Linked DNA regions of Homo sapiens: regions 2 and 3 are each linked to region 1. The links come from fine-mapping of genetic effects on gene expression. A gene starts in region 1. Each other region holds a variant in brackets. All regions are shown on one strand. Distances are between the middles of the regions.

Region 1 (8,186 bases):
CACTCTGCATCACCTGCATTACCACCTAAGCTCTCTCTCCTGTCAGATCAGTGGCAGCATTATATTCTCACAGGAGTGCGAACCCTATTGTAACTGATGCATGCAAAGGATCTAGGTTGTGCACTCCTTATAAGAATCGAATGCCTGATTTGTCACTGTCTCCCATCACCCCCAGATAGGACTGTCTAGCTGCAGGAAAACAAGCTCAGGGCTCCCACTGATTCTACATTATGGTGAGTTGTATAATATTTCATTATATAGGCTAGGCACGGTGGCTCACGCCTGTAATCCCAACACTTTGGAAGGCGAGGCGGGCGGATCACCAAGTCAGGAGTTCGAGATCAGCCTGTCCAATACGGTGAAACCCCATCTCTACTAAAAAATTCAAAAATTAGCCAGGTGTGATGGCACATGCCTGTAAGTCCCAGCTACTTGGGAGGCTGAGGCAGGAGAATCGCTTGAACACGGCAGGCAGAGGTTGCAGTGAGCTGAGATCACACCACTGAACTCCAGCCTGGGCAAAAGAGTGACTCCGTCTCAAAACAAAAAAATTTCATTATATATTACCGTGTAATACTAATAGAAATAAAGTGCACAGTAAATGTAATGTGGTTGAATCATCCCCGCTGCCCCCAGTCTGTGGAAAAATTGTCTTCCACGAAACTGGTCCCTGGTGCCAAAAAGGTTGGGGACTGCTGCCATACACTGTTCACAGTGTTCTCTGGTAACCGTTTTTTTTAATCTGCAAAGCTCCCTTCAAACATTATTTAACTTCTCAGTTTTACAAAAATATATTTTGAGAGCAGGAAAGAAGCAGCCACACAAAATGGTAGTCCACTGGAAAAGGTCTTAATGTATTTCTTATTTAGTCAGATATACTGTCAATTTTACAATACTAAGGGCACAAACAATTTCGATAATAAATTGGATATTTGTTTTTTGGAAAAGGTCTTTTATCTCTCCTTCCTTCCTTTTTTTTTTTTTCAGGCTCTCATTCTGTCACCCAGGCTGGAGTGCAGTGGTGTGATCACAGCTCACTGCAGCTTCAACCTCCCAGGCTCAAGTGATTGTCCCACCTCAGCCTCCTGAGTAGCTGGGACTACAGGCATGCGCCACCACGCCCAGCTAATTTTTGTATTTTTTGTAGAGACAGGGTTTCACCATGCTGTCTAGGCTGGTCTCGACGGCTAGGCTCAAGCAATCCACTCACCTCAGCCTCCCAAAGTGCTGGGATTAAAAGGCATGAGCCACTGTGCCTGTTGAAAAGGCCTTATTTTCTAACTCAATTCAAACATTTACTGAGGACATACTATGCTAAGTGTACTTGGTGATACAAAAGAGAAAACAACATCTTACAGCCTTCAGACTTTATAATTATCCTGCCTCTTCTCAGCTACTCCAGCATTTTTCCAGTCACCTAAAAGTGTCAAATCATTTGTTCAACAACATATTTCTGGGCTCTTTAAGGGCTTTAGTGGCACTGACAACTTCTTTGTCAAATGTACATTTGAAATGCCCTTTTGTATCAGTCTTCTTTCCTTTTCAATAATATGGCATTAGGCCTTCATTACCCTTCTGCTAGACTGTAACAAAAGCCTCCTAACTGGTGTCTCTGACTCCAGTTTCTCACTCTAATTCATCCTGCTTTTGTCAGAATTGCTCATTGAAAAAACTTGTTAAGCTTGGCACTGTGATGGGTGCTGAGGATACAAGAGATAAGATGTGAACTCTCTAACCTCAAGAAATTTAAAATCTAGTGAGGACGAGAGACGTGTAACTAGACCAGGAGTCATAATCTGTGAGACAGGTGCTCTGACAGAGGAAAGAAGGGAGGAGTGAAACACACAGGGAGGAAAAGGGGGGTGGAAATTTATTTTTTCTTTTACAAATAAAAAGAATGAGAGAAGCAAGGAAATTAACTGATTATAGCCAGTGTGCCAAGTGTGCTTCGCATTTATTATCTTAAATGTAGCCTCCCTTCTAAGAGATTCTTAAATCTCTATTTGATTGAAAAAAATTGAGCTTCAGAGAAGTTTGTTATCTTACCAGCAGTCATACAGCAAGGAAGTGCTGAATGAAGCTGGGACCTAGCTGGATTTGAGAATACATATGCATGCCAGGAAAATCTTGGAGGAAGTACGCTGGAACTATGTCTTAATAAAGGGAAGGATATTCCAAGAAAGGGAACAGATTTTAAAACGTTCAGAGGCAAAACAACACACATAGCAAGTAGCAAGTAGCTTGCAGTGGTGGAGTAAGAAGAAATAGGGAGAAAATGAGAAGAGACAAGCAGATAAATACCTTATTAAAGTACAGATCTGATCGTATCACTGTCTTGTTCCCTCTCACCTACCAAATAAACTGTAACACTACAGTTTAACTGTAGTTAAATGTAGTACTACATTCAGGGCTTTCTAGGATCTTGCAGTGCCAGTCAACTCCCCTCTTCTAGCTTATGCTCTTGCTTAGTATTTTTCAAAGATTACCTGCATTTAGTCGCTTTTGAACCTTTGCATTTTTCCTTCCCCCTGGAATTATCTCTCCCTTTCTCCTCACTCCGTCTCTACAGCAAATCCTACTCATCCTTTAAAATCCAGCTCAAATGCTTCCTAGTCCATGAAGCTTCCCAGTCGGAAAAACTTGCCTTTCCTCTGAATTCATTTAGCACTTTACACGTCTTTTGTGGCATTACCACAAGCTGTCCTGTTTATGAAGACTGGGTATTCAAAAGACCTTTCCTACTTAACAACTATGTGCCCCTAGGCAAATGCCTAACTTCTCTAAGCCTCAGTTTCACCTTCTGTAAAATGGATAACTTCCAACCTGTTTCACATTTATTGTGAATATCCCCTAAGATATTAAAGCTTTTTAAGTATGAAGCACTGCACAAATGGTATTATTAATATGCAGCGTTTGTCCTGAGAGCTCATTTACACCCTTGAAGGCATGTAACCTGTCTCACGCATATTTACGGGCCCAGAGTGCCTGGCACCATGTCTTGTACACAACAGGCGTTCGCGTCGTGTTTGAATTATGAATGCAAGATATAGGACTAAAGTTATAGTCAGGGCAGCTAGGGTGGGGACTCTTGTTGCCCCCGGCAAGGCACGCATTTCTTGTCATCTGCTCGGAAGAAGCTGCAAGGGGAGAGTCCAGTGAGAAAAAGGTTAGACGAAGGAGGCGATGTGACTGAGTCTGGTCTGGGGACAAGCGCAGTCAGCGCAGAATGAGGAGGCCTCCGACGAGAAGCGGTAAAGGAAGGTCTACGTCCGCGCTCCTGTGGAGGTCGCCGGGCTGGGGTTGGCGGCAGAGTCCGCACCTGGCCGGGCCAGCGGCTTTTCGGTCTAAATATCGGGGTTTTCAGCCTGGCCTTAGCTAAGGGAGCAGAAGATCGGGGTGACGGCTGTGGTGTGGCCGCAGGGCTGAGGTGGGGAGGCCGGGAAGAGAGAGTTTCTTCAGGAGGGATCACTGTCTTACCTGCAGCAGCCTCAGTTATGTTTTTGACAACTATAGCAACCAACTACCTCTCGCGAGAACTTACTTTTGGCCATCGCACGAGCAAGTTTATTCCAAGACTCGCGATAACCCTCTGGGGCCGGGAGCAGGGAGCGAGACGCTGAGCTTCTGCGCCTGCGCCCTAGCGCCGGCTGCAGCCTCCTCACTTCGAGAGCCTGCTGTTTCCGCGGATGCTTTACCTTGCCAAGAGTTGGGTTTAAGTGCATAGGTTTCCACCTTTACATTTTGCTTTCTCGACTCTTTGATTTCAATATTTCTCTATAATAGGAGGGAAAAAAGCAAAAGGAAGTTTAAAGAAAAAGGCCTTTATTAAACTGATTTGAAAACATCATTTAAATATTTCTCCGTGAAATATGCAATATTTTTTAAATGAGCCCGTCACGCCCTGTTGATGAGAGTGCAAAATGACCCTGCTTCTAGGTGCTCAATATTTGTACAATAAACAGACCTGAAGTTTATGATGTTAATACAAATTTTTAATATTCAAAATTTAACATTAAAGAGCTAGAATAGCAAAACACAATAGCAATAACCTGGAAACAACCCAAGTGCCCGTCGAAGGAATAGTGGATGAGTGGACCAATAAACTGTGGCATATTCACAAAATGGCATATTACAAGCAGTCAAAGTTAATGAACTGCAGCCATACACACAACACGGATGAATTTTAGCAGTATATATACTTTAAATTGTTGCAGTGTTAAGAGCCAGCTTGAAGGGACTCCCATGGGCCAAATAAGGGACAATTTGAGCATGAAGTAAACAACGACGATAACGGATTACAACCCATTGAATAAAATAGGAATATGCAAGTCCGTGTTGATACAGAGAAAAAGGAAAACTCTTTCAAAGTAGGATGCCAACCCAGAAGTGTAGCGAGAAGGATGGAAATAGAGAACTACCATTTGACAACTACTGAGGAGGATGACTCAGGCAGGAGTCTTCAATGGACGCTAAGGCTGGTGGGTAGATGTTCTATGAGGCATAGAATACTGGCGTGATTTTGGAATGCTTCCATGGAATACTACTTGATTACAGAGGGGGAAACAGTGAATGGACGCAACCAACATGATCAGGTGATCATGGTTAACATCACCAGTGTTGGGAGGAGTCTACATTGTGAGCCTCCTGGTGAAACACACTAAAAAAAAACACACACACACACACAAAGCATCCTTTTTGGTTTTCCTACCATGAAAGGAACTCAGGTTGTAGACCATCCAAGGACAAGAAAGACTGGGAACTGTCTCTGACTGAGGTTATATGACAACTAAATTCAATATGTATCTCTGTATAGCATTCTGGACCAGAAAGGAAAACAACATTGTTAGGACGGTGGGAAAAATGTGAATTAGCTCTGTGAATCGCATACCACCCCGAACATGCCCAATCTCATCTGAATTGGATGGTAGTGTTGTACCAATATTGATTTCCTGATGTGGAAGTTTGTTTGTTGTTAGGTAGGAGAGTGTCCCTGTTTAGGGGAAAATAAACACTAGTGTGTTTAGGAGTGATGAGACACCATCTCTTCAATTTGCTCTCTTGACTTTCAAAAGGTCCAGAAAAAGACTAACAAGGGATACATACACATGTACACACACATATGCACATGCATGCACACCTGCACACATACACACACAGTGAGCAATGGAACAAGTGCAATAAAGTGTTAACTATTTGGGAATCTGAGTGCAGGGGACATGGGACTTCCTTACACGATTTGGGCAACTTTTCTATACATTCGAGATCATTTCAAAACAATTAAAATATATACACACGCATAACCACTCTCCCTGGGAAGCCCTTTGCTTAGGAAATAGTTACCAGAGTCAAATTTTAAAATTTTTATTTATATGAATAAAGAAACATTATAAATATTGAGAAATATTTTTTGAAAGTTGCAGTGTTACAGGTAATAAAGGTTCTCAAAATAAAACTACTGTGGCACTACTGAGTAAGGATTTCTCTCTGGATTTTTTTTCCCAAGTGAGAGTTTTGGGTGAATTTGCACTGAGACAGCTATCCCACTTGCAAATGACAGACTCTTTCTACATAATAAGCTGGGTTAGGCCAAGTCTTTAATAGGGAGCTGTTCTTCCAGAAATCGCTCATGATCTTGGTCTACTTAGTACTTTGCTTCAAGGTCTTAGGCAAGCAAGGATAAATAACAGATGTCACCTCCTTAAACATAATTAATCTCCATTCAACTTTAGGGTACCTGAGAGCAAGGGCTGTATGTTACAATTTTCTTTTTTTTTTTTTTTAAGATGGAGTCTCACTCTGTAGCCCAGGCTGGAGTGCCGTGGCGCAATCTGGGTTCACTGCAACCTCCACCTCCTGTGGTCAAGTGATTCTTGTGCCTCAGCCACTGGAGTAGATGTGATTACAGGCACCCATCACCACGCCCGGCTAATTTTTGTATTTTTAGTAGAGACAGGGCCATGTTGGCCAGGCTGGTCTTGAACTCCTAACCTCAGGTGATCCACCTGTCTCAGCCGCCTAAAGTGCTGGGATTACAGGCATGAACCACCATGCCCGGCCTTTTTTTTTTTTTTTTTTTCTTTATTGAGACAGTCTTGCTCTGGAGTTCAGTGGCATGATATGATCTCGGCTCACTGCAACCTCTGCCTCCCGGGTTCAAGTGACCCTCCCACCTCAGCCTCCCGTGTGTGTGTGTGTTACAGTTCTTTTATTCTCCTACAGTGCTTAGCAGTGGCCACTCTGTTTGAAAGGCATTCTTTTTGACTGATTTAAAACATCCACTTGTGTATGGAAAAAGCCCTCTTTAGTGGTATGGAAAATATAATAGTACTGGAATCATAATAAAATCATCTACATATGCAAACCAATTTCAGGGAAAAAAACTATAAAAATATCTTTCTAATAAAATTTGAATGCCTTAGTCTGAGTTTCAAAGGCCTCCATTAAATGATGCACTAGCTCAACAAATTCCTTTCTCATTACTCCAAAAGACTTGTTTCTAATTAGCTAATTTGTTACTTCCAAAGTCAACATATTTCTGACAATAATACAATCAAATGTATTGCTCATCCCCAAATTGATCTACAGATTGAAAGCAATCACTATGAAAACCCCAACTGTTTTTTTTTTCTTTCAGAAATTAACAAGCTGATCTTAAAATTCATATGGAAATGCAAGGGACCCAGAGTAGCCAAAACAATCCTGAAACAGAAGAACAGTTGGAAAACTCACACTTCCCAATTTCAAAACTTTCTACAAAGCTGCAGTAATCAAGTAACGAAGACAGTAATAAAGACATAAAGATAGCCATATAGATCAAAATAATCAATTGAATTGAGAGTTCAGAAATAAACTCTTACATTTACGGTCAACTGATTTTTAACAAGAGTGCCAAGATGATCTACTGGGATGTGGGAGGGAGGGGGTAATATAGTCTTTTAAACAAATGGTACAAGGAAAAACAATGTCCACATGCAAAGAATGAAGTTGGACCCTTACCTCACACCATATACAAAAAATAACTCAAAATGGACCAAAGACCTAAATGTAAGAACTAAAACTATAAATTTGAGGGTTTTCTATTTCTGTGAAGAATGTCATTGCAATATTGATAGAGATTGTGTTGAATCTGTGGAGCACTTTGGGAAGTATGAACATTTTAATAATGTTAATTATTCTAATCCATGAACATAGGATACTATTTGTGTCTTCAGTTTCTTTCATCAATGTTTTGTAGTTTTCATTGTAGAGATCTTTTGCCTACTTGGTTAAAACTTCCTAGGGTTTTTGTTTTGTTTTTTGTAGCAATTGTGAATGGGATTGCTGTTTTCTTTTTCAGATAGTTCACTATTGGCATATAGAAATGCTACTGATTTTTGTATGTTGCTTTTGTATCCTGCAACTTTACTGAATTTATTACTTCTAGCAGTTTTTTGGTGGAATCTTTAGGGTTTTGTGTGTATAAATTCATGTCATCTGCAGACAGGAAGTTTGACTTCTTTCTTTCCAATTTAGATGCCCTTTGTTTCTTTCTCTTGCATAATTACTGTGGCTAGGACTTCCAGTACTATGTTGACTAGAAGTAGTGAAAGTGGCTATCCTTGTCTTGTTCCAGATTTTAGAGAAAAAGCTTTCAACGTGTCCTCATTCAGTATGTTAGCTGTGTGTCTGTCATACATGGTCTTTATTTACAAACTATGCATCTGACAAGGGGTTAATGTCCAGAGTATATAAGAAACTCAACACCAAAAAAAAAAAAAAAATCCAAAAAAAAAACCCCACAAATAATCTGATTTTAAAATGGACAAAAGATCTAAATAGACATTTCTTGAAAGTATACAAATGGCCAACAGATATATGAAAAAATGCTCAACATCACTAAATGTGATGGAAATGCAAATAGTGTATCTACACAAACCTAGATAGCGTAGCCTGCCACATACCTAAGTCATATAGAGTATATCCTATTGCTTCTAGGCAACAAACAGGTATGGCATGTTATCATACCGAATACTGTAGGCAATTGTAACACAATGGTAAGTACTTGTGTATCTAAACATAGAAAAAGTACAGTAAAAATATGGCATAAAAGATAAATAGTACACCTGTAGAAGGCACTCACAATGAATGGCACTTGCTGGCCTAGAAGTTGCTCTGGGTGAGTGAAGGAATGAGTAGTGAGTGAATTG
Region 2 (8,186 bases), 570 kb after region 1:
CCACACTCAGCCATTGGTTTCAAAGTAAAACTTCACTGTTCTCACAGTAACCTCAGCCTTTCTGCTGCAATCTGGTTTCATTGAAGTGGTTTCCGTTTTCACCAGAACCCCTCTTTCTGAAGTATTCTCAGCCCATTATATTAACAGCACTCAGCCTGCTTTCCACGTATGCCCTATCTTTCCCAAGCTGACCACAGCAGCACCCCTGCCTATACCCCTCCATACTCACTCCCATTGGGTCCACCTTCCTTCCAAGAAGGAAACATTTAAGCCCTCCCTTTGAATTAGATGAAGTAAGAGGAGTTGCTGAGGTGTTTTTTAAAAATCAATTCTGGGCTAGGTGCAATGGCTCACACCTGTAATCCTAATACTGTGGGAGGCCTAGACGGGAGGATTGCTTGAGCCCAGGAGCTCGAGGCTGCAGTGAGCTATGATTGCACTACTGCACTCCAGCCTGGGTGACAGAGCAAGACCCTGTCTCTAAAGAAAAAAAATCAGTTTTATTGAGATATAATTCATATATCATACAACTTACCCATTTATTCTTTCTCTTTTCTAGAGACAGGGTCTTGCTCTGTCACCCAGGCTGATCTCAAACTCCTAGGCCAGAGTGATCCTCCCACCTCAGCCTCCTGAGTGGCTGGAATTACAGGCTCATACCACCACGTCTGGCACCATTTGAAGTGTACAATGCAATGGTTTTTAGTAGATTCACAGAATTGTGAGACATCACAATCAATTTTAGAACACTTCATCACCTCACAAAGAAATCCTGTACCCACTCACAATCACTCCGTTTTTCTCCCCAACCCCCTCAGCCCTAGGCAATCACTAATTTACTACTTTCTGTCCTCTCTGTGGGTTTGCCAATTCTGGGCATTTCATATCAATAGAATCCTATAATATGTGGTTCTTTGTGACTGGCCTCTTTCACTCTTAACATGATGTTTTCAAGTTTTATCCATGGCATAGCATGTGTCAGTGAGGTTGCTGAGTTTTAATAACAAATTGAGGGAAAAGATGGTCTAGGCGAGGTGCAGTGGCTCACATCTGTAAATTCCAGCACTTTGGGATACCAAAGTGGGAGGATCCCTTGAGTTCAGGAGTTCCAGAACAGCCTGGGCAACATAAAGAGGCCCCATCTCAAAAAAAAAAAAAAAAAAAAAAGGATGTTCTAGGTCTCTTTTTGAGGTTTCAGTCACATTGAGATTCATTCAACAATCTTTGTCATTTCTTTCTTTCTTTCTTTTTTTTTTTGAGATGGAATCTCGCTCTGTCGCCCAGGCTGGAGTGCAGTGGCGCAATCTCGGCTTACTGCAATCTCTGCCTCCCAGGTTCAAGCAATTCTCTGCCTCAGCCTCCCGAGTAGCTGGGATTACAGGTGCCTGCCACCATGCCCCACTAATTTTTTTCTATTTTTAGTAGAGACGAGGTTTCACCGTCTTGGCCAGGCCGATCTTAAATTCCTGACCTCATGATCCACCTGCTTCGGCCTCCCAAAGTGCTGGGATTACAGGCATGAGCCACTGCGCCCGGCCCTTTGTCATTTTTTTAAAGTACCCATACACAGGACATTATTTTAGATACAAATGAGGCAGTCCTAGTCCTCAAGGAGCTCACCACTTTGCAAAGTGCTATACTAAGTCTGCATAAAATGCATGGAAAAATAATGAAGAAGCAATTGATTCTGCCTGGTGAAGTCAATGACGACTTTACAGAAGAGGTGATATTTTACCTGGACATTCAAATACACACAGAAATTTGCCAAACTAGAAGAAAGGCATTGTAGGCGTAGGGAAGTTCATGGAGGCATGAAAAGGTGAGGTGTTCTAAGGAAATGAGGAATAGTCCATTGTGGTGGAGAACTCTGGGGGGCAATGAGTAGGTGGAGATGGTGGGGAAGGATCTGGTGGGATCCAGCTGGTGATGACCCTGCTGCAGGACTGATTCTCAGCAGCAGGCACTGGTTCTGCTCAGTGACTAAACAGATGCTGTCCTGAGATCCTCTCCGCGTGGCCCCTGCCATCAGCCTCTCTCCACTTCTTCATGATCCAGCAACCACAGGGTTAATGCCTGTGGCACAGCAAAGGCCTCTGAGATCCTCCCTCCTCCAGCTGGCTCAGGCGAAAGTGTCCTACTGGGGTATCTTGATAGTTAAATATTTTGACTATCACCTCTTGCCCTCAGGCACTATTTTTCAAAATCCAGAAAGTGAATTAAGTTCTAGAAGCCATAAAAAAATTGGCTTTTTAAACTAAACATTTTTATTCAATTGTAAAAGTAGCTACAAATGTAAAATACTTTCATAGCATTCCACAGCCATTGTTAACATCTCTGGCTTCTTGGGTTCCTTTGTAATCTCAACCTCTTTTACTCGGTCTTAAATGTTAGGATTCCTAAAGCCTGATCTTAAACTTCCTATTCCCACCCTAAGCTTTCTCCCTTAGGATCTTGTTAGCACCCAGGCTTAAATGACCACCAATAAACAGATGGCTTACAAAGCTGATCTCTAGCCAGACCTCTCTTCTGCACTCCAGACTCTTATTTTCTGTTGTCTACTTGACACCCCTTTTGGTTGTCACTCACAGGGGACCTCAAAGTCAACCTGCCCCAAACTGGCCGAGTCTTCATGCCCCAGTGTGGAGACATCTCCCATCACTTTCTGTCTCAGATGATAGCACCACATCCATTCAATTATGAAAGCCAGAAACCTGGGGCCATCCTGATGCTTCTCTCCTGGTTTCCTTCATCCCCTCCATCACCAAATCCTGGGGATTTGACTGATATCTCTTGAAGTCGTCCATTTCTCTCCCTCCCCACCATCACCATTAGTTGAGCCCAGTCTACCCTACAATAGCTTCCCAGTTTGGTGCCACTGCACTACAGCCTGGGCGACAAGAGCAAAACTCAGTCTCAGAAAAAAAAAAAAAAAAAGGACCAAAGGACCACTAAAAGAAGAGCACTCTTTTTTTCTTTTTTGAAGCAGGGTCTTGCTCTGTTGCCCAGGCTGGAGTGCAGTGGCACAATCCTAGTTCACTGCAGCCTTGACCTCCTGGGTTTAAATGATCCTCCTGCCTCAGCCTTCCAAGTAACTGGAACCACAGGTATGTGCCACCACACCTGGCTAATTTTTTTTTTTAATTCTTTTGTAGAGACAGGGTCTTACCATGTTGCCCAGGCTGGCTGGTCTCAAACTCCTGGGCTCAAGTGATCCTCCTGCCTTGGCCTTCCAGTGTGCTGAGATTATAGGCATAAGCCACCATGGCTGGCCTAAGAAGGGCATTCTTAGCACAGGTTGGTGAGGATTAGGGGCTAGAAGAGAACCCAAAAGTTTCATTTATTCACTGATTCATCCTTCACTCATTAATATAGCAAACACTTATTGGGAGTCGGCCATGGGCCTGGCATTGTGCTGTGTATTGGGTATAAAGATGAGAGCCCCAGTCTCAACCCCAGTGAGATAAGGGTCAAGTTGGGGAAGAGACACATTGCAAATGAATAGAGTACAGGGTGAGGAAGATTTACAAGATGGGCAGGGATGGCTAAGACAGCAAGGTGGAGGAGGTGACCTTGGGGAGAATCTTGAAGGGCAAATACAGGAGGAAGAAATGCTTCTCTGAGCAGAGGAAACAGCACATGCAAACGTGAAGAGGAGGGAGGAAGCCCAGGGCACCGGAGGGACTGCAGGTGGTTCCAGCCGCTGGGGTAGGGGCTGGCATTGAAGTGATTTGACTGGAGGGATTGGCAAGAGCTGGAACCTACGGGCCTAGAGGACTCTGCCTGACACATGAAGGACTTTGAACTTTCTTGTGATGTGGAATTGTTAAAGATTTTGGAGCAGTGTGAAAAATTGATCAAAGGAAGATTCTTGGGCCTGGGTGAGACTACCAGCAGGGAAAACCAGTTTGGAGACTATTGCAATCAGCGAGGTAGGAGCTGAAAAGTGTCTGAGCCAGGGCTATGGCAATGGGATGTGAGCAGAGGATACAAATATGGGAGATTGGTGGGGATAGAATAGACTTGGTGCCTGGCTGGGGGCGGGAAGAAAAGGAGATATCACTTGGTTTAGTCTCCTGCCTTCGGGTAGATAAGGCAACAGCATAATTTTACAGGTGAGAAACTGAGGCTGTAAGTGATTTATAGTAGGTAGCTGACCAAGCTAGAGTTACCACTTGTAGAACCTTGGGGATCAATACCTCAGGGCAGCTAGTTCTGCTAATTACCTCCTTAACTCTGTCCACCCAACTGGAGAACTTCCCTATCACCATAATCACCACGCAGTGCTGATATCCAAGCCTG[C/T]ATAGGGTGATGCTTGTTTCTGAAATACCCCAGGCCTGTTCAGCCCTGTGACTGTGGTTCTAACACCTGGAATTTCTCCTGAACCTGCTGGTCATGTGATGCACTGGCAATGAGTTAGTGGATAGGTCGGTGGCATGTATAAGGAAATCAGCAGATGCTGGATCTAGCCGTCTGCCTTCTGACTTCCTAAAAATGTGACTTCTGGTGTTTCAACAGATCACATGCCCTTAGCACATCACCAAGTTCTGGCACGAGGTTGTGGAGATGGAGCAGATTTTGTAAGGACTCCAGCTGGTGGGCTTCCTAGCCCAGTCTCTCCTTCCCTCTTTTTGGTGGTTCTCCAGTTGCCCTTAATTTCTCATTCTCTTTTCATATAAAGGGAAGAAAATGACTTTCTCCCTCACCTGGCTCTTCCCATCCTCACCCTACTGTCTTTTTAGCTCTCTCTCCAGAGTATTGTACAAGCTGGGGTTAATGCCATTGGAGGGAGGACTCTCTAGCTCCAGCTTGGTTTTTCCATTTAATTGTCTTGGTGAAGCCAGCCATGGTGGTGCATGCCTGTAATCCCACCTACTTGGGAGGCTCAGGGGTGAGGATTGCTAGAGGCCAGGAGTTCAAGACCAGCCTGGGCAACATAGTGAGACCTTATTTCTAAATGAATGAATGAATGAACGAATGTAACAAGTGTCAGCCCCTTTTCCTTTTCTTTTCTTTTTTGAGATGGAGTCTTGCTGTGTCACCCAGGCTAGAGTGCAGTGGCATGATCTCGGCTCACCGCAACCTCCGCCTCCCGGGTTCAAGCGATTCTTCTGCCTCAGCCTCCCGAGTAGCTGGGACTACAGGCGCACGCCACCACGCCCAGACAATTTTTGTATTTTTAGTAGAGACGGGGTTTCACCATATTGGCCAGGCTGGTCTCAAACTCCTGATCTCGTGTTCTGCCCGCCTCGGCCTCCCAAAGTGCTGGGATTACAGGCATAAGCCACCGTGCCCGGCCCCCCAGCCTCAAACTTTCTCTGATTTCTCACTATACCTACACACTCCTCACCACCACAGGCTGAGAGATTCTGCCAGGGAAGCTCTAAGCTCTTGAGTCCCATTGGAACTGGACGTATCTGTGAAGTTAACAGCTATTGATCAGGTTACTTCTATTTCCCACTGGAATTTGGCCACCATCTTTGGCTGTAGAGAGTTACTAGAATTTTGCCAGTTTCCCTAGTGGTGAGCTCACCAGAAGTCCTTCTCTGAAAGTCCCTTCAAGTCAAGACCTCTTTGAGTGCTTCCCTCTGCCCTTTCTGTCTCCTCAACTGAATTCTGTGCTGGCTGAGGGAATGAGGAGAAATGATGAACTGGAGACAGAGTGGGATAAACACTTTGCTTAGAACATCAATCTTTGTTTTTTTGAGACAGAGTCTTGCTCTGTCACCCAGGCTGGAGTGCAGTGGCACGATCTTGGTTCGCTGCAACCTCTGCCTCCTAGTTCAAGCGATTCTTCTGCCTTAGCCGCCCAAGTAGCTGGGATTACAGGTGTGCACCACCATGCCCAGCTAAATTTTTGTATTTTTAGTACAGACGGGGGTTTTGCCATGTTGGCCAGGCTGGTCTCGAACTCCTGACCTCAAGTGATCTGCCCACCTTGGCCTCCCAAAGTGCTGGGATTATAGGTGTGAGCCACCGCACCTGGCCTAGAACATCAATCTAAAGCAATTAGGGTCCCCAAATTAGCAATTCTGTATTACCTGGCACTTGTTAGGAGTTGCAAATTCTCAGGCCCCACCCCAGATAGACTGAATCAGAAATTCTAGAGGTGGGGCCTAGCAATCTGTGTTTTAACAAGCTCCCCAGGGGATTACATTGCCTGCTCAGGTTTGAGGACCACTCTTCTAGGTGTTGATTCTCAAACTTCAGGATGCATCCTAACACCTGGGGCAGCTGGTTATGTAGGATCTGGTTAAACAAACTGGACTGGTGTCTGGGCAACTGTATTTTTAGTAAGCTCCCTAGATGATTCTTATATTCATCAAAGATTGAGGATCATTGATCTAAGGAACTCATCTAATTAGCTGAGTCTCCTGGGAAGGGAGCAGACAGAAGGGCAATGGAAGTGTCTCTTAATATTCCAAATGCTACCTGCATCTGAACCTCTGGAGAGCTTGTTAGAAAAGCAGGATCTTGAGCCCCCATCAGAGGTATTGACCCAGACTTTCTGGGCGTGGGGCCCTGGCATCTACATTCAGAGTTCTCCAGGTGATTCTTGCGCATACTAAAGTGTGATTACTGAGGAGCAACAAGTTGGCAGGTGTTCTCAATGCTGGATGCACATTAGAATCACCTGAGGAGCTTTATAAAATTATGTGATAACCTGAGCTCCACCTCCACAGAGTCTGACTTCATTGGTCTGGGCTGGGACCTTGATGTTTTTTAAATGTCTCACACCGGATTATTTTAATAGATAGAGTTAAAGACTATCAGGTTTGGTTGGATATGGGGGTCATGCCTTAATCCCATGGCTTTGAGAAGCTGAGGTGGGAGGATCACTTGAGCCCAGGAGGTCGAGACCAGCCTGGGCAACAGAATGAGACCCCCATTTCTACAAAATTAAATTGTTTTAAAAATTAGCTGAGCACGGTGATGCACGCCAGTAGTCCCAGCTACTTGGGAGGCTAAGGTAGGAGGACTATTGAGGCCAGGAGGTCAAGGTTGCAGTGAGCTGTGACCACTCCAGCCTGAGCTCTTAAAAAACAAAATGAAACAAAAAAACCTATCAGGTTAGGCTGGGCGTGGTGGTGCACACCTGTAGTCCCAGCTACTCGGGAGGTAGAGGCACGAGAGTCACTTGAATGTGGGAAGTGGAGGTTGTAGTGTGCTGAAATTGCGCCACTGCACTCCAGCCTGGGCAACAGAGCAAGACTCTGTCTCAAAACAAAATAAAAAAAAACAAAAAAACCTATCAGGTTAAAGGGAGATGCAGATCTGGGAAGGGTCAGGAAACAGGAGAAGGTGAAGGAATGCCAAGGAAACAATTTGGTGGAAGCCTGAGGGCAAGGCTAGTTATGGTTTCCATGTGGGAAATCCAGGGGAGATTGATTGGGAAGGTGGAAGGGGCCTCAGGTTGGAAAGTGGGCAGGGTGGCTTGGGTGGCGTGAAGCTCACTGTAGAAAGAGGTTAATGTATTAATTTCCTGCTGCTACTGTAACAAACTTAACGGCTTAAAATAACATATGTATTATTTTACAATTCTCTGGGTCAGAAATGTAAAATGGGTCAGCAGGGCTGGGTTCCTTCCGAAGGCTCCAGGGAAGAATCCATTTCCCTGCTTTTCTAGTCTAGAGGCTGCCTGCATTTCTTGGCTCATGACCCCACATCACGGTGACCTCTGCTTCCGTCATGACATCCTCTTCACCCACTCTGGTCCTCTGTTTCCCTCTCAGAAGGACCCTGAGGATTGCATTGGGTCCATCAGGATAATCTTCCCATCTCAAGATCCTTAAATTAGGCCAGGTCTGGTGACTTAAGCCTGTAATCCCAGCACTTTGGGAGGCCAAGGTGGGCGTGAGGTCAGGAGTTTGAAACCAGCCTGGACAACAAGGTGAAACCTCGTCTCTACTAAAAATACAAAAAAAATTAGCCGGGTGTGGTGGCGCATACCTGTAGTCCCAACTACTTGGGAGGCTGAGGCAGAAGAATCACTTGAAACTGGGAAGTGGAGATTGCAGTCAGCCGAGATCATGCCACTGCACTCCAGCCTGGGTGACAGAGACTCTGTCTCAAAAAAAAAAAAAAAAAGTCCTTAATCACATCTGCAAAGTCATCTTTGCCATGTAAGGGAGCAGAATCGTTGGCCCCAGGGATTAGGATGTGTACATCTTTGGGAGGATATTATTTAG
Region 3 (8,186 bases), 790 kb before region 1:
ACCCAAGGCATTTAGTAACATCCCAGAAAGATCATGCTATATTAATAGGGCTAAGATAGCTCTAGAGGCTGGGCATGGTGGCTCATGCCTGTAATCCCAACACTTTAGGAGGCTGAGGTGGGCAAGTCACTTGACCCCAGGAGTTCAAGACCAGCTTGACCAACATGGTGAAACCCTATCTCTACTAAAAATACAAAAAAAAAAAAAAAATTACCCAAAGGATCATACATCATGCTGCTATAAAGACACACGCACACGTATGTTTATTGCGGCACTATTCACAATAGCAAAGACTTGGAACCAACCCAAATGTCCAACAATGATAGACTGGATTAAGAAAATGTGGCACATATACACCATGGAATACTATGCAGCCATAAAACATGATGAGTTCGTGTCTTTTGTAGGGACATGGATGAAGCTGGAAACCATCATTCTCAGCAAACTATCGCAAGGACAAAAAACCAAACACTGCATGTTCTCACTCACAGGTGGGAATTAAACAATGAGAACACATGGACACAGGAAGGGGAACATCACACGCCGGGGCCTGTTGTGGGGTGGGGGGAGGGGGGAGGGATAGCATTAGGAGATATACCTAATGTTAAATGATGAGTTACTAGGTGCAGCACACCAACATGGCACATGTATACATATGTAACTAACCTGCACGTTGTGCACATGTACCCTAAAACTTAAAGTATAATAAAAAAAAAAAAATTAGCCATGGTGGTGCACACCTGTAATCCCAGCCGGGCATGGTGGTGCACACCTATAATCCCAGCTACTTGAGAATTGCTTGAACCCAGAGGCAGAGGTTGCAGTAAGCTGAGATCATGCCACTACACTCCAGCCTGGGCGACAGAGCAAGACTCCATCTCAAAAAAACAAACAAACAAAAATAAAAAACAGAGAGTGACAGAGTCAGAAAAACAGTAACTATGTATTTTAAGAAAGAGAAGACTGTGGCTCACTACATTTTCTCTTCTTTCCAAGGAAGTTTCCATAACTAGTGAAAAAAATTATCAGGGACACTAAAGTACCAAGGTTCCTTTGTTAATTTCACAGGGTCACCAAATTGTGAAGTCTCAGAAAGCATTCATTTTCTTTTTTTTTTTTTTTTTTTTTTTGGAGACAGTTTTTCTCTGTCACCCAGGCTGGAGTACAATGGCACAATCTTGGCTCACTGCAACCTCCACCTGCCTCCCAGGTTCAAACAATTCTCCTGCCTCAGCCTCCCAAGTAGCAGGGACTACAGGCTCACGCCCTGTGTCTGGCTATTTTTTGTATTTTTGTAGAGATGGGTTTTTGCCATGTTGGCCAAGCTGGTCTCAAACTCCTGACTTCAAGTGATCCAACCACCTTGGGCTCCCAAAGTGCTGGGATTACAGGTGTAAGCCACCGCGCCTGGCCAGAAAGCCTTCATTTTCTAAAGCTGCTATTGCTATCCCTATCCCATTATTTAAAATGTTCAGCAGAGGAGACAGGCAGACCTTGAAGCACAGTGTTTCCTAAGTATTGCCTTAGCATGTTGAATTCTTTGAAACATCTTATTTCATAGACGAATATTAACAATACCAAATGATCCGAGCAAGAAATTCTGATACAGAGTTAAGCCAGAAATCAACTCCTTTCTGACAACAGAGATGACTGGAAGAATAAAAGTATACGCAAGAACAAGATGGTTGGATAACACTCACCTCTTCCACAAAAGACCAGTACTTGCAGTTACTGCAGATGCTCCCAGGAAAGCCACCATCATTAGTCTTCGCCGGATCTGGATGGGCTGTGATCCTCCATGGTACCATCGAGAACCCACAGCCAGTTCTGCCAAAGCAGAAAGTGAGTTCAGACGAAACATCCTGTGGACAATAAGTAGAAATGTCACTCTTAGCTAGTGGTAGTTATGATGATGATGATGATGATCCTACCAACATTTCTAATAAACACTAAAGTAATTGCTCTATGACAGGCACTATTCTAAACAATTTGCTTATATTATCCCATTTAATCCTCAGAATAATCTTATGAGCAAAGTACTACTTATAAAACTGATATATTAGTCAAAGTACAATTAGAAGACAGAAACCACATGATAATTTGAGTATGAAACTTTTAATATAAAACATTATTAAGGCCAGGTATGTGGCTCATGCCTGTAATCTTAGCACTTTGGGAGGCCAAAGAGAGAGGATCATTTGAGCCCAGGAGTTGAAGAACGGCCTGGACAACATAGTAGGACCCCATCTCTACCAAAAAAAATCAGCCAAGCATGGTGACATGCACTTGTAGTCCCAGCTATTCAGGGGGCTGAGGTGAGAGCACTACTTAAGCCCAGGATGTTGAGGTGACAGTGAGCTATGATCAACAGAGCAAGATGCTGTCTCAAAAAAATGAATAAAATAAATAAAAAATAAAAAATTATTAGTTACAACAGGAAATTTACTACTCAGAAGTTAAAGAAATAGCAGATATAGGGAGCAGTTACTATTCTAGATCTGACACAGAGCACCAAGAAAAGACCAGTCTATAAAAGGTCTACTCTCACTCACAGGGCAGAGATCAGACTGTGTGGAGAGGGCACAGCTATGTATGTCAGAGAAACTTACTAAGGTGCCATGCCAGCAAAATGCACTAGAAAGCCACTCTCTGTGATGCCAGAACAAGTCATCTACTGGACAACTCATGCCAGCGGAATTTGTTGGGAAGCTGACCTTCGCGATGCCAGGGGAAGCCACCCATGGGGAGGCAGTTTCACTAGGAAATTGCATATGAGAGTTGCTGCTAAAACTCCTTAGGAGCTGGGTGCCATTGAGTGTCCCACTAGTTCCTGCATGCTATAGAAGCAAGCCACAAAGGGCACACTAGACTCAGCAAGAAACACCCCTCCTCCAGGGTCCTTCTAGTCTCTCTACTGACAAAGTTTAACAGTAACTGGCAAGGGAAAAACTTCCAGTATCACAAACGGGACAATGAAAGATGTGTTTAGAGCTGAAATGAAAAAAGATAACTGGTACCCATATTTTACAGATCTAAAATATAACTTGCTCAAGAGTACAAAGGTAGGAAGTGATAGATCTAGAATTTGAACCTAGGGAGGACTAATTCCATACTTCAATGTCTCGGAGTTAGGTAGGGAGACTTCAACCTAGGAGGGGAGACTTTGCTGCCCCCTACCTTATAATGCTGACACTGCTTTGAAGTTTTTATTAAATATTTTTCACACCCAGGTCCTTGGAAGCCCTCCTCCCTACCAGATTCTCTATAGTTCAAACTTCACTTAAAAAAAAATTCTTTTAATGTTTTGTTTTAAATCTGAAACATCTGTATTAGTGCATATTACTGTTCAATAAATACTTACTCTTCCATCCCCCATCCCTTAGGCAAAATTACTTTTCTACTTTTTTCTTCCCCTTCTGCATATGAATGCCAGGTCATAAATTTCCTTCTCTTTAAGTTTTTGGCGTATGTCTTGCCATATGTCTTGCTCTAACCAATGGAATGTGGACCAGTTCCATGAAGTGCTTTTAGGAGGTGCTGCTGTTAGTTTTCTTGTGTTCCTGCACTCCATCGAGGGAAGACCATGTCCCAAAGAGACACTGATCCTTCAAACTGGCATCCATAATGAACAGACTTCAGCCTGGAATAAACCACTGTCAAGCCCAGCTGAGCCAGCTGAGCACAGCTGACCTGTAGAATGCTGGTGAGAAATAAATGTGTGTAACTGTAAGCTGCAAAGATTTGGGTGTTGTTTGTTGCCCCATCAATAGCCAACTAATTCAGCATCCAAGATAATTACTGGGAAGTTCTTATTCTTTTTTTTTTTTTTTTTTTTTTTGAGACTGAGTCTTGCCCTATCACCCAGGCTGGAGTACAGTGGCGCAATCTCGGCTCACTGCAACCTCCACCTCCCGGGTTCAAGCGATTCTCCTGTCTCAGCCTCCTGGGTAGCTGGGATTACAGGCACACGACAACCACACCTGGCTAATTTTTGTTTTTTTAGTAGAGACAGGGTTTCACCATGTTGGCAAGGCTGGTCTCGAACTCTTGACCTCAAGTGATCCATCCGCCTCGGCCTCCCAAAGTGCCGGGATTACAGGCATGAGCCACCGCGCCTGGCTGGGAAGTTCTTATTCAACAAAAATTTATTAAATTCATACTGTATATACATCCCTATGTGAGACCCAGAAAGCCAAAAACTATCTACATTCTAATTAAACAAGATAAATACAAAACACTTTTAAAACAATACATTTCTAAAATCATATATATGCATATATATATATATATATA[TA/T]TATATATATATTTTTTTTTTTTTTTGAGATGGCGTCTCACTCTGTTGCCCAAGCTGGAGTGTGGTGGCATGATCTCAGTTCACTGCAACCTCTGCCTCTCGGATTCAAGCAATTCTCCTGTCTCAGCCTCTTGAGTAGCTGGGACTACAGGCACATACCATGATGCCTGGCTAATTTTTGCATTTTTAATAGAGATGGGGTTTCATCATGTTGGTCAGGCTGGTCCCAAACTCCTGACCTCAGGTGATCTACCTGCCTCGGCTTCCCAAAGTGCTGAGATTACAGGCGTGAGCCACCACACCCGGCCTAAAATTATATCTTGAAGTATAGAAATATTATGATAGAAATGACAGAAAACTACAAATAAAAAAGATAAAGTTGAGACTGGGTTAGTCAGCAAAAGCTTTTGTTTAGTCTTAAGCCTCAGAATGGTGTAAAATTTTGATTAAGTCAGAGAAATGTTGAGACACCCCCAAAACCATAGGATCATTTCGGGCACCTCCATCCAGAGAATTAATGTAAATGATTTTTTTCCCTCTAGATTATGACCTTCAGGGCTCAGTATAGTACCTCACTGTTTTAATGCACCAGATGGGCTGATGGAAGAAGAGGCATTTCTTTACAGTCCCACTTTTTTGTAGAGGTAATTCATTCAAATTATACAAAGAATCCATGCCCCCTTTGATTTTTCTCAAAGCACAGTTCACTGATTCCTAAATTTTTGTGTGTGTGTTTTGAGATGGAGTCTTGCTCTGTCGCCAAGGCTGGAGTACAGTGGCATGATCTTGGCTCACTGCAACCTCTACCTCCTGGGTTCAACCAATTCTCCTGCGTCAGCCTCCCAAGTTGCTGGGATTACAGAAGTGTGCTACCATGCCCAGCTAATTTTATATTTTTAGTAAAGACGGGGTCTTACCATATTGGCCAGGCTGGTCTCGAACTCCTGACCTCAAGTGATCTGCCCGCCTTGGCCTCCCAAAGTGCTGGGATTACAGGTGTGAGCCACCATGCCCAGCCCACTGATTCCTAATTTAAACTACTTTGCACTTTGTACATATCTTCCTATGGCATACGTAATTTTTTCTCCCCTTGCCTCAAGGCCCAAATTATTTTTTTTTTCAAGTTGTAAACACATAGTCTAGCACAGGACTTGTTACATTATTAGTGCTTAAAATACTTAACCATTTTACTTTCACATGTCTGTGTACAAACTATACAGGTACTTGCTCCTAACATTTAAGTATACTCTAAGTTCCTAATTTACTTAGAAAACTGTCTTCTATTATTTGGATTCAAGTCAGGTTAGACTACTTAGGCATCTCCTAAAATCAATGAGCTGGTTACTATTAACTCTTCCCTGGGACCTATACCTATAATCTCTTATGTAAACTTTGCTCCTAGCTCCCTTCATCCAATCTAGGTCCAATTTTGAAATTGGACCTAAATCTTGCCCTCATATAGACAAAATGGAAAAACTGTTAATCTTTTCTCCTATTTTCCATGACCTAAGCTTTAATAACACAATTCTTATATCCTTCCCCAATCCCAGAAATCATCTCATTTTATTGCACATACTCTAGCAAAATCCAGCACCCAGGAGGCTGTCCATTATATTTTCTTCCTGTCTGGCAACTTCTGATTTTTTTTTTTTTGGTTCATTTCAAAATTAACATTTCTCAAATCCACATGTACACTCACATAAATAGCACTGCTCTTCGCTACAGCAAAAATGAGCACTAAACTAAAACATGCATATCTGGAGGAAACATTATTCATCACTGACAACAGAAAGAACAGACACTTGGAAGTTTTCAATGTTTAAAATAAATAACAGCCAATTCAAAAGTTGGAACAGGATGAGTGCAGTGGCTCACACCTGTAATCCCAGCACTTTGGGAGGCCACGGCGGGCAAATCACTTGAGGTCAGGAGTTCGAGACCAGCCTGGCCAACATGGTGAAACCCTGTCTCTACTAAAAATACAAAAATTAGCTGGGCCTGGTGGCAGGCGCCTGTTATTCCAGCTATTCAGGAGGCTGAGGGAAAAGAATCACTTGAACCGAGGAGGCGGAGGTTGTAGTGAGCCGAGATTGTACCACTGCACTCCAGCTTGGTTGACAGAGTAAGACCCTACCTCAAAAAGCCAAAAGTTCTAACAGGCAAGGGGTATATAAGCCTGGAAGATAAATTTACAACATCTGATCAGATGTAGAGAACAGCTAGACATATGATCAACTAAGTAAGCCACAATCACTTGAGAAGGACCTTTGAATGCCAGACCAAGAATTTAGAGCATATGTAAAATAGGAAGCCACTCAAGTTCTTTAATAGGAAGAGATCATGGTAAAAACGGGTTAAAGCATTATCAGTCTATCTATTAGCAGTGCATGGAATAAACTGCAAAGAAGCAAAGGCAGAGAGAGCTGACAGGAAAGTGATGAGTACAGCCAGAAGGCATTAATAACCTAGGTATTGGGTGATGAGTGCCTAGATTATAAGTGTAGAAATAAAAAACAGAATCAAACAAAAAATTTCCAAAGAAAAACAAAATGTAGTTGGGCATGGTGGCACACGTCAGCTACTTAAAGAGGCTGAGGTGGGAGGATAGCTTGAGCCCAGGAGTTTAAGTCCAACATGGGCAACATGGTAAAACCCCACCTCTAAAAAAAAAATAATGATAAAGACATTGGTATCAAACACATATTAATATCTAATTGCACAGGAGATATGGAAGATAAAAAGGAGAAATAAATTAAAACAATAACAACAACACTAGGTACTATGGTAAAAAAAAAAAAACAAACACTAAGTAGTATGGCAGAAATCCAATGATCCAAGATCTGGTCTCAACTGTACTACTCAACAGCTAGCTGTATATACTAAAGAAGCTCATCCCTCCTCCTTGGGAAAAAAGCTCACTCACTGGTAAAATGAAAGAATTGCGTAGGTGAGCTTAGGGTTCCTTTTATCTCTTTAGCACTCTCATATCTTTGGTAGAAAACACTATAACAAAATTTAATTAATTTCATTTAGGAGAAAAGACTAAGATCATATAAAGTATTCAAGATTTATTAGTTTGGGCAATCCATTTCTATATGCTATGGCTCTAGGGGATTTCAAACTTTGAAAGTTCTGAGTTTTACCAACTCAGACCCAGATAAGTTATGTGATTTCCTCATAGCTAATTAGTACAAAAACCTATAACAGATCCTTGCATTTTTGACTCCCAAATAAACTTAATGAGAAAAACCTGTTTAATAACTGTTCTCAGCAGAAAAAATATAACAGCCACACTCTAAAAGTAGATCAAATGCCCAACTACAGAAAAATAAATGATGCTATAATAACATAATGGAATGGAATGTAAATATTAAAAATGATAATAATAAAATATTATTAAAATATTACTTCACAAACCAACAGAAAGTTGGGTAAAGATATAAAAAGACAGTTGGAAAAGAAAAATGGCTCCGAAAACTGTGAAAAGATACTTAATCTCACTCATAATAAAATAATGCAAATTAAACCTATACTCAGATACTTTTCACCCATCAAACGGGCAAAAATCAAAAAGTTTGAAAACACATTTGTTGACAATGTTGCAGAATGGCACTACTGATGAACATGCAAATCTGTACAATTTATGGTGGGCAATTTGGTAATTTGCATTAAAATTACTCATATAATCTGCATATACTGGCCTAGAAATTCCACTTCTAATAATATACCCTACTGATGTACTTGCACACTTGTGAAATTATGCACATGTATATGGTGCATAATTATTATATCATAGTTTATAATAGCAAAACACTAAGAACTACCCCAATGTTCACCAAGAGAGATTGGTTAAAGTATGATAAATCTATATAAAGCAATACCACATAGCAAT

Direction of the effects. Alleles are on the strand shown, and positions count from the first base shown. SD is a standard deviation of normalised expression in the study named. Not every link is listed here.
In carriers of allele T in region 3, the expression in monocytes of the gene that starts at base 3,628 in region 1 tends to be higher than with TA alone (large effect, 2.3 SD a copy in Quach 2016).

Evidence for each region. PIP is the estimated chance that this variant, and not a neighbour inherited with it, causes the effect.
Region 2: its variant is fine-mapped to the expression of CFAP70 in whole blood (INTERVAL, PIP 0.99).
Region 3: its variant is fine-mapped to the expression of CFAP70 in monocytes (Quach 2016, PIP 0.95).

The regions. Positions count from the first base shown.
Region 1 is chr10:73,355,237-73,363,422 of GRCh38, forward strand. CFAP70 (cilia and flagella associated protein 70) reads right to left here and starts at 3,628. Exons shown (of 28, transcript NM_001367801.1): 1 at 3,542-3,628. RefSeq lists enhancers at 2,771-3,296, 3,233-3,452, 3,297-3,822.
Region 2 is chr10:73,922,098-73,930,283 of GRCh38, forward strand. It overlaps C10orf55 (chromosome 10 putative open reading frame 55), which reads right to left and starts at 680. Exons shown (of 5, transcript NR_160938.1): 1 at 536-680. The variant C/T (reference allele first, on the strand shown) is at 4,300.
Region 3 is chr10:72,564,933-72,573,118 of GRCh38, forward strand. It overlaps MICU1 (mitochondrial calcium uptake 1), which reads right to left. Exons shown (of 12, transcript NM_001195518.2): 2 at 1,701-1,862. The coding sequence starts at 1,861. Among named protein-coding and RNA genes, the nearest start is that of MICU1, 57 kb to the right of the region's middle. The variant TA/T (reference allele first, on the strand shown) is at 4,294.